Linked DNA regions of Homo sapiens: region 2 is linked to region 1. Evidence: fine-mapped expression QTL. A gene starts in region 1. The other region holds a variant in brackets. All regions are shown on one strand. Distances are from middle to middle.

Region 1 (5,384 bases):
GAGACATGTATGCTACTTCATCTATTGCTTTTGAAAGAAATTTTATATTAAAACAATGCAGTGGGCATAACGGTGTGTTCAAAGTGCTCTCGGAAAGTTCCCTGAATGTGAATAAGGTGAAACTAAAGCAATATTGCTAAAGACTAATCACAGTATTCAATCAACTTGAGCCGTATAGACCTTGCCAGTCCTCCTGCAACACTGACTTGTGATTAGTGTAATCAAAGGCCTCCCAAATTTCAACACTTAACTCCGAATGTAATCGTCTTCCTTCAAGCCCTGAGCCCTTGGAACCCACAGATCAGTAATGATGCCACTTAACATTTTTCCCCAACAACAGTAGGAACATTCTCCGTATGGCAACCATATGCTAATAAAAGACATTTGAGGGCAGTTTAAAGCATCTAGTTCGTATTTGAGGATACTCGCCCCTATATATCACACGTCTCGTAGCAGAAATCCCCAAAATAATGACAGGTTCACCGCCATAACTTGATATGAGTCACAGCAAACACTTCTCCATGGGATTTTAGAAGTGGTGCAGCCCCGAAGCCTTGTCATTATGTAGGTGAATGACCAGCAGCAGAGACCAGCTGGACTGCCCTCGGTAGCTTCAGCCCCTGATGAAGTATGCACAATGAGATAACTCCTAGGGAGTTTCAGCACCTCCTTGTTTTCATGGAAGTCACTGCAGAAAATCCCAAGACTCTTAAATATTGGTCACATAGTTCTTAAAAGTGAAAATTTACACCTGTCAGGCCTAATACTATGCTGACAACATTCTCTGTTTTCTAAATCAACATATTTGCTTGAGCACAGTAAAAATACATCTTAATAACACCTGCCAGAGCTAAGGCGAATCAGATCAGCTCAAATGAGGCACACAAGAAAAGAAAAGAAAAAAAAACACCTTGGAAACACAACCTGCCCCTCTATCTCTCATCTCCCACACCCTTCATACCCCCACGGTTACAGCAAAATACAACTTTGGGCATTTTGGAAGTAACTGTTATTTGTGACACACACACACACACCCCAAAAATTCCCAAGTCTGTTTTCCTACCACAAACACCAGGGAGGCTGCATCACCTTTCTAGTGACTTAATTCTGAAAGCAGAGGCTCAACCTGCCGAGTGGCAATCGAAGAAAACACACTACACACCAGAATAAGATGAGGGTCGGGAAAAAAAGAAAAAAGCAGCTTCGCTTTCAGCCATTAATTACGGATCACCCCAATTTTGCATCGCTCATCTCCCATACACACGCACAGCCTTCCAAACCTGGCTTTCAGGCGGCGCTTTCTGGAGCCTGGCTGTCTATTGTCAGCACGCAGAAGCCCCCGAAACCTGTGAAGCCGGCTGCAAAGGCTTGCTGGGAAGCCGCTAAATATAGACCAAGGGGGCTCAGGGTCTGGCAAGCCGCGGGAGCCTGAAGACACGGCCATGGACGCATATGACTAAGTCTTTCCATTTTGTTCTAGCCAAACATCGTAATGACATTGAACATAAGGGCAAAAGACTGGAGGGAAGTCCTCCCCACCCCCACCCCGTCTCCTCCCGTATATTAGGGACGTCATGAATGCACCGAGTATGTTCTCAGGGTGGCGGGGAGCAGCATTGTCGGTGTTGCCCTAAATACGCTTCCTCCCGGGGAGATGGGTGGCAGGGAGGGGGAGCACGCAGGGCAGCCACTTGGTAACCGCTCCAAGAAAGGCACTAACCCCGGACCCCCTTCCAGGCACAGCGGCTTCCGAGGGGGACCTGGCGCGATCGCGGTCCTCCCCGAGGCAGGCAGAAACCCCGCAGCAGCCGCCGCCGCCGCCTGCCGGCCGGGAGCCCAGGACCACCCCCACCAGCGGCAAGAGGAGGAGGACGGCGCCGGGAGGAGGCTGCGCCCGGCCCCGGCCGCCCAGCCCCGCAACTCACCCAAAGGCGCGGCGCCCGGCGGCTTCCTCGCAAACATGCACCCTCCGCCGGCGACAGCTCCTCAGTCCGGGAAGAGGCGTGCGCGGCGCCGCCCGGCTTCAGGGCAAGGTCCTGACCTTGCCCAACTGCAGCATCTTCCGCTTTTGTTGTCTGAGCGCGGCCGCGGGACAAGGGATGCTGGCGGGCGGCAGGGGCGAGCGCCGCGGGCGAGAGGCGGCTCCCGACGCGAGTGCGCAGCGCCCGGCCCGGCGGCCCCTCCGAGCTCGGCGAGCGCAGCGCCCCCTGCCCGGCTCCGCGGGCTCCACGGGCTCCTGCGGGCTCCTCGGGGCTCCGGGCGCCGCCGCCAGCCGGCCGGGCTGAGAGAGCAGCCGCCGCGCCCGCAGCTCCGCTCAGCCGGCTGTCGCCGCGGGCGCGAGCCTGGGGCCGCCGCGGCGCCCGGCGCCGAGCGCTCCCGAGCTGCGCCCCGCGCGCGGCCCGCGCCACCTGTGCCGCCGCCGCCTCAGCCGCCGAGGGCGAGGCTCCTCCCGCGGCGCGCGGCAGCCTCAGCCTCCACCTAAACCTCGGCGGCCGGCCCGGGCGCCCGGCTAGTGAGGGAGCGTCCGCCCCGCCGCCGAAACCGGCCCCGGGTGCGGAGCATGCCCAGTGCCGCCGCGAGAGCGGCGCTTCGCCGCGCGCGTTCCACTTCTCCTGGTTTTCGCGGCAGCAGCGGCAGCCGCGGGAGAGAGGGGAGGAGGCCGCGGGTTGGGAGAGGGCCGAGCATCCTTGGGAACGCACGCCCTGGACCTGAGATGGGTGGATGCTCCGGAGCTAGGCGAAAGCTGGAAGGGACCCGGGAAGGGATGGAACCCCAGGTTACTCCGCTTCCCTAATTCACGTGCAAGGCGCTGACAGTTGACTCTGGTGGGGCAGATGTCAGCCTGCAACAAAGGACCAGGGTGCGAGGGGTCCTAGAGTGGCCAGGTGGGTTGGGGGAGGGAGGCTGGCGGAACGTGCTGGTGAGCGCAGGTAGATGCTCTTGCAGATCCTGTGATTCCAGAGCTAAGGAGGCACGAAGTCCAGCAGAGGTCTTCTCCACAGCACCTGCCCAATCTTGCCATCACCTTCCCTGTTCAGATGGCATGTTTTTGGCGGGTAGTGAGGGTTTCTCCTTAGGCAAAATCACTTCAGATTTGAAACTGGAATGTCTGTAAACTTCCTGCAAGAAAGACCCTTGCCCAGTCTGGAACTTGAGCAGATTAAGTTCTCTCTCCTCCCCTTCTTGTGCCACCTTGTCCTCCTCTCTTGGTATCTTCTGCTGCATCTCTGCCACCTTCTCTTCCTCCTTTTCTTCCTTATTTCAAAGTGAACCACTCCCCTGATCCTTCCCCACAGTCTTCCAGTGCATCTCGCATTGCCTTCTTCACGTTCAAATCAGTTTTCCATATCACCTCCTGGCTTGACTGCTCCTTGACCCCATCGGGACTTCCCCATGCGTAGCCTGCTGTGAAATACAGCAAGTGGAATCACCGTATTCAAAGTCTTGTTGAAAAACGAAACCCAAAACATGTGCCAAGGAAGGCCTCTGGGCCTTCGCCCCTGTCCCTCTGATTCAGCAGCAGTCAGGACGGGGCTCACGTCTGCTGCATTCACAAGCCAAGCCAAGCAGGGCACAGCCTGCCCAGGGGCCAGGTCGAATGTTCCTCCTAATTATGCCACGGGCATGACCCTGAACACCGCAGACTGTCTGAGGTTGTGATCTCCTCCACCCCCCCCACCCCCCCCACCCCCGCAGAGCTTGTTTCTGAAACACAAATAAGCATGACAGAATGCAGGAAATTGTAATAAAAGGGATTTGGTGCTTACGATTCTCAGTAACATTGTGCTTCTATTTTGTGTTGAAAGAGATTATCCAACAAACTTAAATGATTTGAATATTCAAGTCTATTCTTTATTATACTTGGGAGTAAGTTGAAATATAAATGGAAGTAAGAGTGAAGGAGAAAAGCGGTACAGAGGTTAAATAGGTAACAAATAATTGCTAGGAGGAGCAGATTAAGCAGACTATTGACAACAGTACAAATGTTCGCTTTTATTCCTCCTACCCCAGGTGTGGACATGCACACACAGGCTTTGTCTCACCTGCAAAAAACAGTTCTCCAAGCTAACTCCAAGTGTCTTAAAGCCAGTTTGATATTAAAATATCCTGAGTCCTGTGAGGGAAGACATGCAAGACCATTTTTTTCATCACACGTTTAATTGTAATTTTTATCTTAGTTCTCAGAAAGGCAGTTCAATTACACTGAGTACGTGGTACAAGACAAATTAGCAGCACCATATCCATTAGGCCACATTATATTTCAAGAGATGTTCTTAGTTCCCACCTGAGCTTCTGTCAGTCTGCTATCGTTTGGTTTTCTCTTTGCATCTTCTAACTCAAGAAGTCAGTGGGGAGGTGGAAAGGGAGATGAGGGGACATCAGTTACTCTTTAGATTAAAATGGAGGTAGATGTGTAGATGCTATCCACAGGTAATATATGTGTCTTTTATGCCTGATATAGATCTAAGTAAAGAAAATAATTTTCTAACGTTTTTTAGTTACTATCGAGATGAGCAATGACAAATTCTATCAACTAATTGTGTGTCTGGGAAATGAGCTGGAGGCAGTCCCTACAGATACTGTTGGGGCTGGGGCTGGTGTGATATGGTTATTTAGGAAGCAGAGTGGTAAAGTCCAATGTCCTGGACTGCTTTGATTTCATTTGCTCAGTGCCCCATTTCATTGAAACATTTATGACTTTTATTATTCTAGAATAATTTGTAACTTAAGATATTATTCAATTCACAATTAGATAATATTGAAAAATAAAGCAAAATGAACATGTATAATGTTAGATCTTGGAACGACTCACTGCTGCCATCTTTTGCCTCCTGCTTCCGATAGTTCCTATATAAAGGAATATTCTGAATCCTCAAATTCACTATGAGACTAGAACATTATTAGTTTATTATTTTCAAATTACAGTACTCAATGCTCAGTGAAAAACCTTCATTGTATTTCTTCTGTTTATGCATTAATAGAGTTATCTGATACAGAAATCACATATAAATACTAAATGCTATATCTCTTGATTTTTCAAATCACTTTTCAAAATTTGAAGCAAACGTTTTTATATGGAAGTGTAACTTAACTTTAGAAATAAAATCTAACAATTCCAAATATTTTTTATAAATGTATGTGTCTTATTTTGTAATTCAAAGTATGTCGATTTTAGGAGAATGGCATTCTTATTTAAGTCACAGCTGTTTCAATATGGCATTGTTTGTTGCTATTGAGATTCAAATAGAAGATAATATTTTTGTAATTTTTTAAGTGAATTACCCATTGATAAACAATTGAGAAATTTTCAAATTGGGAAATGAAATCAGGTGAGTGATTATTGTTGCTGTTCAGCATTTAAATAGGGAGAGTAATGATACTTC
Region 2 (5,384 bases), 75 kb after region 1:
TGTTTCTGGGTGGGAGGATGGGAGTAGGCCTCTGAGGTCACCTGAGAGAAGCCATTTACTCCAGGGCAGGAGTGGCCAAGGAAGTGTCTACACACTCAATCACATGTGAACTCATTCTGGGGCTGGCCTGGGGCTCCTCCATAGCTCTATGAGAACAGCCTGGAAGGACTTTCCCACATGAGGCTTGAGACCCAGACCTGCAGAAGGTGAGGGGAAGCTGGTACCAGGCAATGTCCAGTCTGAGCACAAGAGAGCCTCCCAAGAAGACAAGAGAGAACAAAATCACCATGGGATATTAGCCACATCCAGAGGTCACCACCAGGCTTGCATCTGTGTCTGGCCCTCAGCCCCTTCCCTCCTCCTGTCCCCCTTCTCATGGAGAAAACTCAGAGCCACTATAGGGAAGGGAGTAGCAAAGAAGAAGGGCAAGGATGCCTACTCTTCCCGGCTCCCAGAGTTCCTCCTCCAACCCACACTCCCAGAAGCAGGCCTCAGCTGGGAGTGAGAGGGAGTCTCAAATGGGAAAACTATGGAATTGACTCCATAGGACTTTTAATTCAAAAACAAGAAGGTTGCTTGTCTGAAAATGACCCTAAGTCTTTTTGTCATCTGTCTCTGACTGGAAAAGTTATGAAACCTCGGCAAATTTCATCCAAAGTTTATGGAATAAATGGCCCACATTATGGGTTCAAGGGACAATAAAAAGGAAACCAAAAAATGATACTGATTTATTGAGTAAAGCTTTGTCAATAGATAGTTAAGAGCTGGCTTTGTATTAAACTTGAATATCTAGAAAATCAGATACACAGATCTTTCTTATTTAAAAAGACATCTAAACTACTATATATTATATAGTACATGAGGTATCATAGATTATTTAATGGGCATGTGTATGTAGTTTGTGCTGTGCAAACAATGCTACAATTGATTGATTGATTGATTCATTTATTGACTCATACATTCACTGATTCAACAAGCATGTAGTGAGCACTGAGTATGTGCCACATTCTCCTAAGAACTTGGCAGGGGATAAACAATTTGTTTGCTCATGGAGTTTCTACTATCAGGAAATAGACATCCTTAGGATACTGTTGAGAATAGACAAGTACTGTAAATTCCTAGCAGAGGAACTGTTGAATAAAAGAGCATGTGTTTTTGAAATTCTGCTAGATACTGTTAAATTGCCATGCAAAATGTTATCCCCGTTGACAAACGCATCAACCATATAAGGGATTGCCTGTTTCCCAACCCTTCACCTACATGCTATTCATATATTGTTTTTAAATTTTGCAAATTTGATTTGTAAAGCTTGCTCTCAATATCATTTTATATTTCATTCCTTTACCTGTGAGTGAATTTGGACATCATTTTATAACTTTATTTGCCATGTTAATTCTTCCATAACATATCTATTCATAGCCTTTGGTGTCATATGTACTAGGAAATTATACCAGGAAATTAACATTGATACAATGCCATTGACTAATCTACAGCCTTCACTCATGTTTTGACCATCTATTCAAGTTACTGGTCCAGATTGCCATCCAGGATCCCTGTTGCATTGATTTGTTCTGTCTCCTTAGTCCTCCCAAATGTCAGCTGTTTCTTTGTCTTTTGTGACATTGACTGACACCTTTGTGAAGTATTGGTTATTTAACTGGATGTCTCTGAATTCAGATTTGTCAGCTATCTCCTTACGATTAAATTCAGATTATCTATTTTTAGCACAAATACCACAAAGGGATGTCTACCCTTCTGAGTGTAGGATATTGGGAAGAACACGTCACCTTCTCCATCTTATTACTGGTTACCTTTTATCACTTGCTGGTGTCTTCCAAGCATAACCACTGTAATGTGGTTTCTAATTAATATCTTGTGGGGCAATACTTTGAGGCTATGCAAATATCCTGATTCTTACAATTTTTTAACTCACTAATTTTAGCATCCTATTTATGATTCTTTGCAATAATTATTACTGTGGCATTTGTCAAATGGCAGTTTTTTTTTTTAAATCAGGATTGTGTTTTCATATTTTGATTTCACACAACAACAACAATGAAGCAAAAAACAGGCTTTGGTAACATTGTGTATTGTGTAATTTGGTTTGCTGGGCAAAGCCATGTCAGCAGAAGCCATATTTTAGGTTGTATGAATAAACATCTAGGAAAACTCAAATACCTGTGACCTTCAAAAGACTATTTTTGTAATAACTCTTCCTTGATAAGCATAGTTGATATGAAAGATGATTTGAGAATCTAGACTTATTTTTTGGTGGAGTCATAATATTTTTGTGATATATATAAATGTGATTGATGGGTTACTTTCAGATTTAAGCATGTAACTCATGTTAACAACTCTTATGAAAAACATTGCTGGTATCTGTCTTCTACCTAAAAAGTGGAATTTTAGATTGAAAAAATAATTGAAAATCTCATGTTTTAAAAAACTTACCACTGTTCAAAAATGTCACCTACTTTTTCTTCCATCAACAATAGACTGTTGGATAAAAAGTTGTGAACTTTTAGACCTGTCATCTGTACAATTTACTTGTGCTTTAT[TG/T]GCTTAAAATATCTGCTAGGCAGCAATTGCCAGTCTAAAACTTAAATACACATTTCAAATCTAATTATTTGTCAAAGCAACTTTGCAAAAATGTTATTTTTTTGAACATGATCCAAAATTTCCTGTCTAAAACACATTTCCTTTAAAACTCAACTGATATAAAAGACAAGTATGGGTACATTTTGCAGAATATTATTCAAAGGGAAAGAAAATGAGATATTTAGGTTGATGAAATAAGAGAATAAGCAACTGACAATAATGTAGACCTCCACTTCAGATTGTATTTTTTTAAAAAATCAAATACTTTTCTATGACTTCTCTCTAACCTCTTCCACATAAGTAGTTGAGTTTTATCACAACATTAGTATAGTATATTTGAATATTGTGCTAACATAACAAATGTGTCAGTGACTTAGTTTTTGCATAATGGAGCTCATATATTTATAGCTAAACTAATATTCTGAATAGTTGTTATTTTTTCCTTGGTCTCTGGGTGGGTCCTTGTAGCAGAGTACCCTCAGTTTCATTGTGGACATACAGTGTGAGCGAGATTTAAACCTTTCATTTGTTAAATCATCAATATTTTGAATTTCTTTCTTATAAGAATATAAGCTTAACCTTCCCTGATTAATACAGTTACTAAGATTTCCCCCCTCTCTCCTATAACAACTTAGTTTCCTTAGACTAAATACTCAGATGTGGGACTGCTGGATCAAAGGTATGCCTATTTTAAGTTCTGCATTTTTCTAGAGTACTTTCAAATAAAAGGTATAGGAATTCACAGTCACAAAATCAACCAGTAGTACAGTATAAAATCTATTTTATTCATTCAGTGAACTATGAATGCATCTAGTAAGAGGAAGGATTTAGATGAGAAACTCTCAAATGTTTTGGTCTCAAAATTACTTTATACTCTTAAACAATATCGAGAACTCAAAAAAAAACTTGCTTAATGGGTTGCATCTGTTGATATTTCCCATGTAAGCAATTAATATTGAGAAATTATAAATATCATTATGTACAATTAAGTATTTTAAAAAGAGCGGTAGAACATCTATTGCATGCTAAGATAAATAACATTTCTATAGAAAACAATCATGTTTGCCAAAATGAGAAATAACTGTGGGAAGAGTGGCATTGTTTTAATTTAAAAAACGTCTGCCTCGCTAGAAGATACCTAGATCTCTCAGCTGCCTCTGCATTAAATCTGTTGTGATAATTGCACACAATATGGCCTCCGAAAAAGTCTACTGTATATTTGTGAGAGAATAAGTGAAGCAAAAAACTAAGGTCTTAGTATTATCATGGAAACACTTCTGACCTTTCAGTCAACCAGCCAGAAAACTTACAGAACTTCTTATGGTCTGAATGTTGGTGTCCCCCCAGAGTTCATGCTGAAATCCTGACTCCCCAAGGTGATGATATCAGGAAGTGGGGCCTTTAGGGGAATGATTAGATTGTGAGGGCACAGCCCTGGGAAATAGGATTAGTGCCCTTTTAAAGGAGGCCTGAGGGAGCTCTTTCACCCTTTCTACCATCTGAAGACGGGGTGAGAAGGCGCCATCTATGAACCAGAAAGCAGTCCCTCACCAGACATCAAATTTGCTGGCACCTTGATCTTGGACTTCCCAGACTCCAGAACCACAAGAAATTTTTTTTTTTTTTTTTTTGAGATGGAGTCTTGCTCTGTTGCCCAGGCTGGAGTGCAGTGGCGTGAACTCGGCTCACTGCAAGCTCCGCCTCCTGGGTTCAAGCCATTCTCCTGCCTCAACCTCCTGAGTAGCTGGGACTACAGGTGCCCGCCGCCACGCTCGGCTAATTTTTTGTATTTTTAGTAGAGACGAGGTTCTGGGCTTGGTGGTGGGCGCCTGCAGTCCCAGCTACTGGGGAGGCTGAGGTAGGAGAATGGCGTGAACCCGGGAGGCGCAGCTTGCAGTGAGCCGAGATCGCACCACTGCACTTCAGCCTGGGCGACAGAGCGAGACTCCATCTCAGAAAAAAAAAAAAAAAAAGAAAAGAAAAGAAAAGAAAAGAAAGAAATTTTTGTTGTTTTGAAGCCACCTAGTTTCTTGTATTTTGTTTTAGCAGGCTGAATGGACTAAAACAGAACTTCTGGTTTAGATCATTAGCTACCAACTTGGGGGAATGGGGCCAGGCTGCAATAAATGACAAAGCAATCCTAAGAGATGGATTATATATATTATATATATAATATTTTAATATATATTTTATATATGCATATATATTTTTATATATGCATCCATGTGTCTATATATGTGTGTGTATATCTTTAACAGTAACACCTACTGTTAAATATACCATTAGAAAAATTCCAAAGGTTGAAACTACTGCACAGAAGCGTATCTCTGTCCAGGGTTGTCTAAACACTGAAGACTCTCCAGGAGAATTTGCCTCTGGACGTTAAGGTGATTGACCTGGGGACTTTAGTTTTTGTTGCTGTGTAACAAATTACCCAAATGGAGTGGCTGAAAGCAGGAGCCGTTTGTCATCCCTCAGCTCTTTAAATCAGATGTCTGGCCCAACGTGAGTGGTTCTCTGTTTGGGTATCACAAGGTTGAAATCCAAGTTGAGCAAAGGTCTCATCTGGAGGCTCTGGGGAAGGATCCCCTTCAGAGCTCATTCTTGTAGTTGGCAGAATTTGTTTCCTGTGGCTATAGACTGGGGTCTCTGTTCTTTTGCTGGTTGTGAGACTGGGGTTCCCTTCAGCTCCTACAGGCTGTTCTCTGTTCCTTTCCATGCAGCCCTGTCTATCTTCAAAGTCAACAATGAATAATCTCCTTGGTTTGAGTATCCTTCCACATTCT

Which allele goes with the higher level. Alleles are on the strand shown, and positions count from the first base shown. SD is a standard deviation of normalised expression in the study named.
For the expression in coronary artery of the gene that starts at base 2,555 in region 1, allele TG in region 2 goes with a lower level than allele T (moderate effect, 0.70 SD a copy in GTEx).

Evidence for each region. PIP is the estimated chance that this variant, and not a neighbour inherited with it, causes the effect.
Region 2: its variant is fine-mapped to the expression of CTNND2 in coronary artery (GTEx, PIP 0.95).

What each region holds. Positions count from the first base shown.
Region 1 is chr5:11,901,892-11,907,275 of GRCh38, forward strand. It overlaps CTNND2 (catenin delta 2), which reads right to left and starts at 2,555. Exons shown (of 22, transcript NM_001332.4): 1 at 1,926-2,555. The coding sequence starts at 1,962.
Region 2 is chr5:11,976,488-11,981,871 of GRCh38, forward strand. No RefSeq gene overlaps it. Among named protein-coding and RNA genes, the nearest start is that of CTNND2, 75 kb to the left of the region's middle. The variant TG/T (reference allele first, on the strand shown) is at 2,559.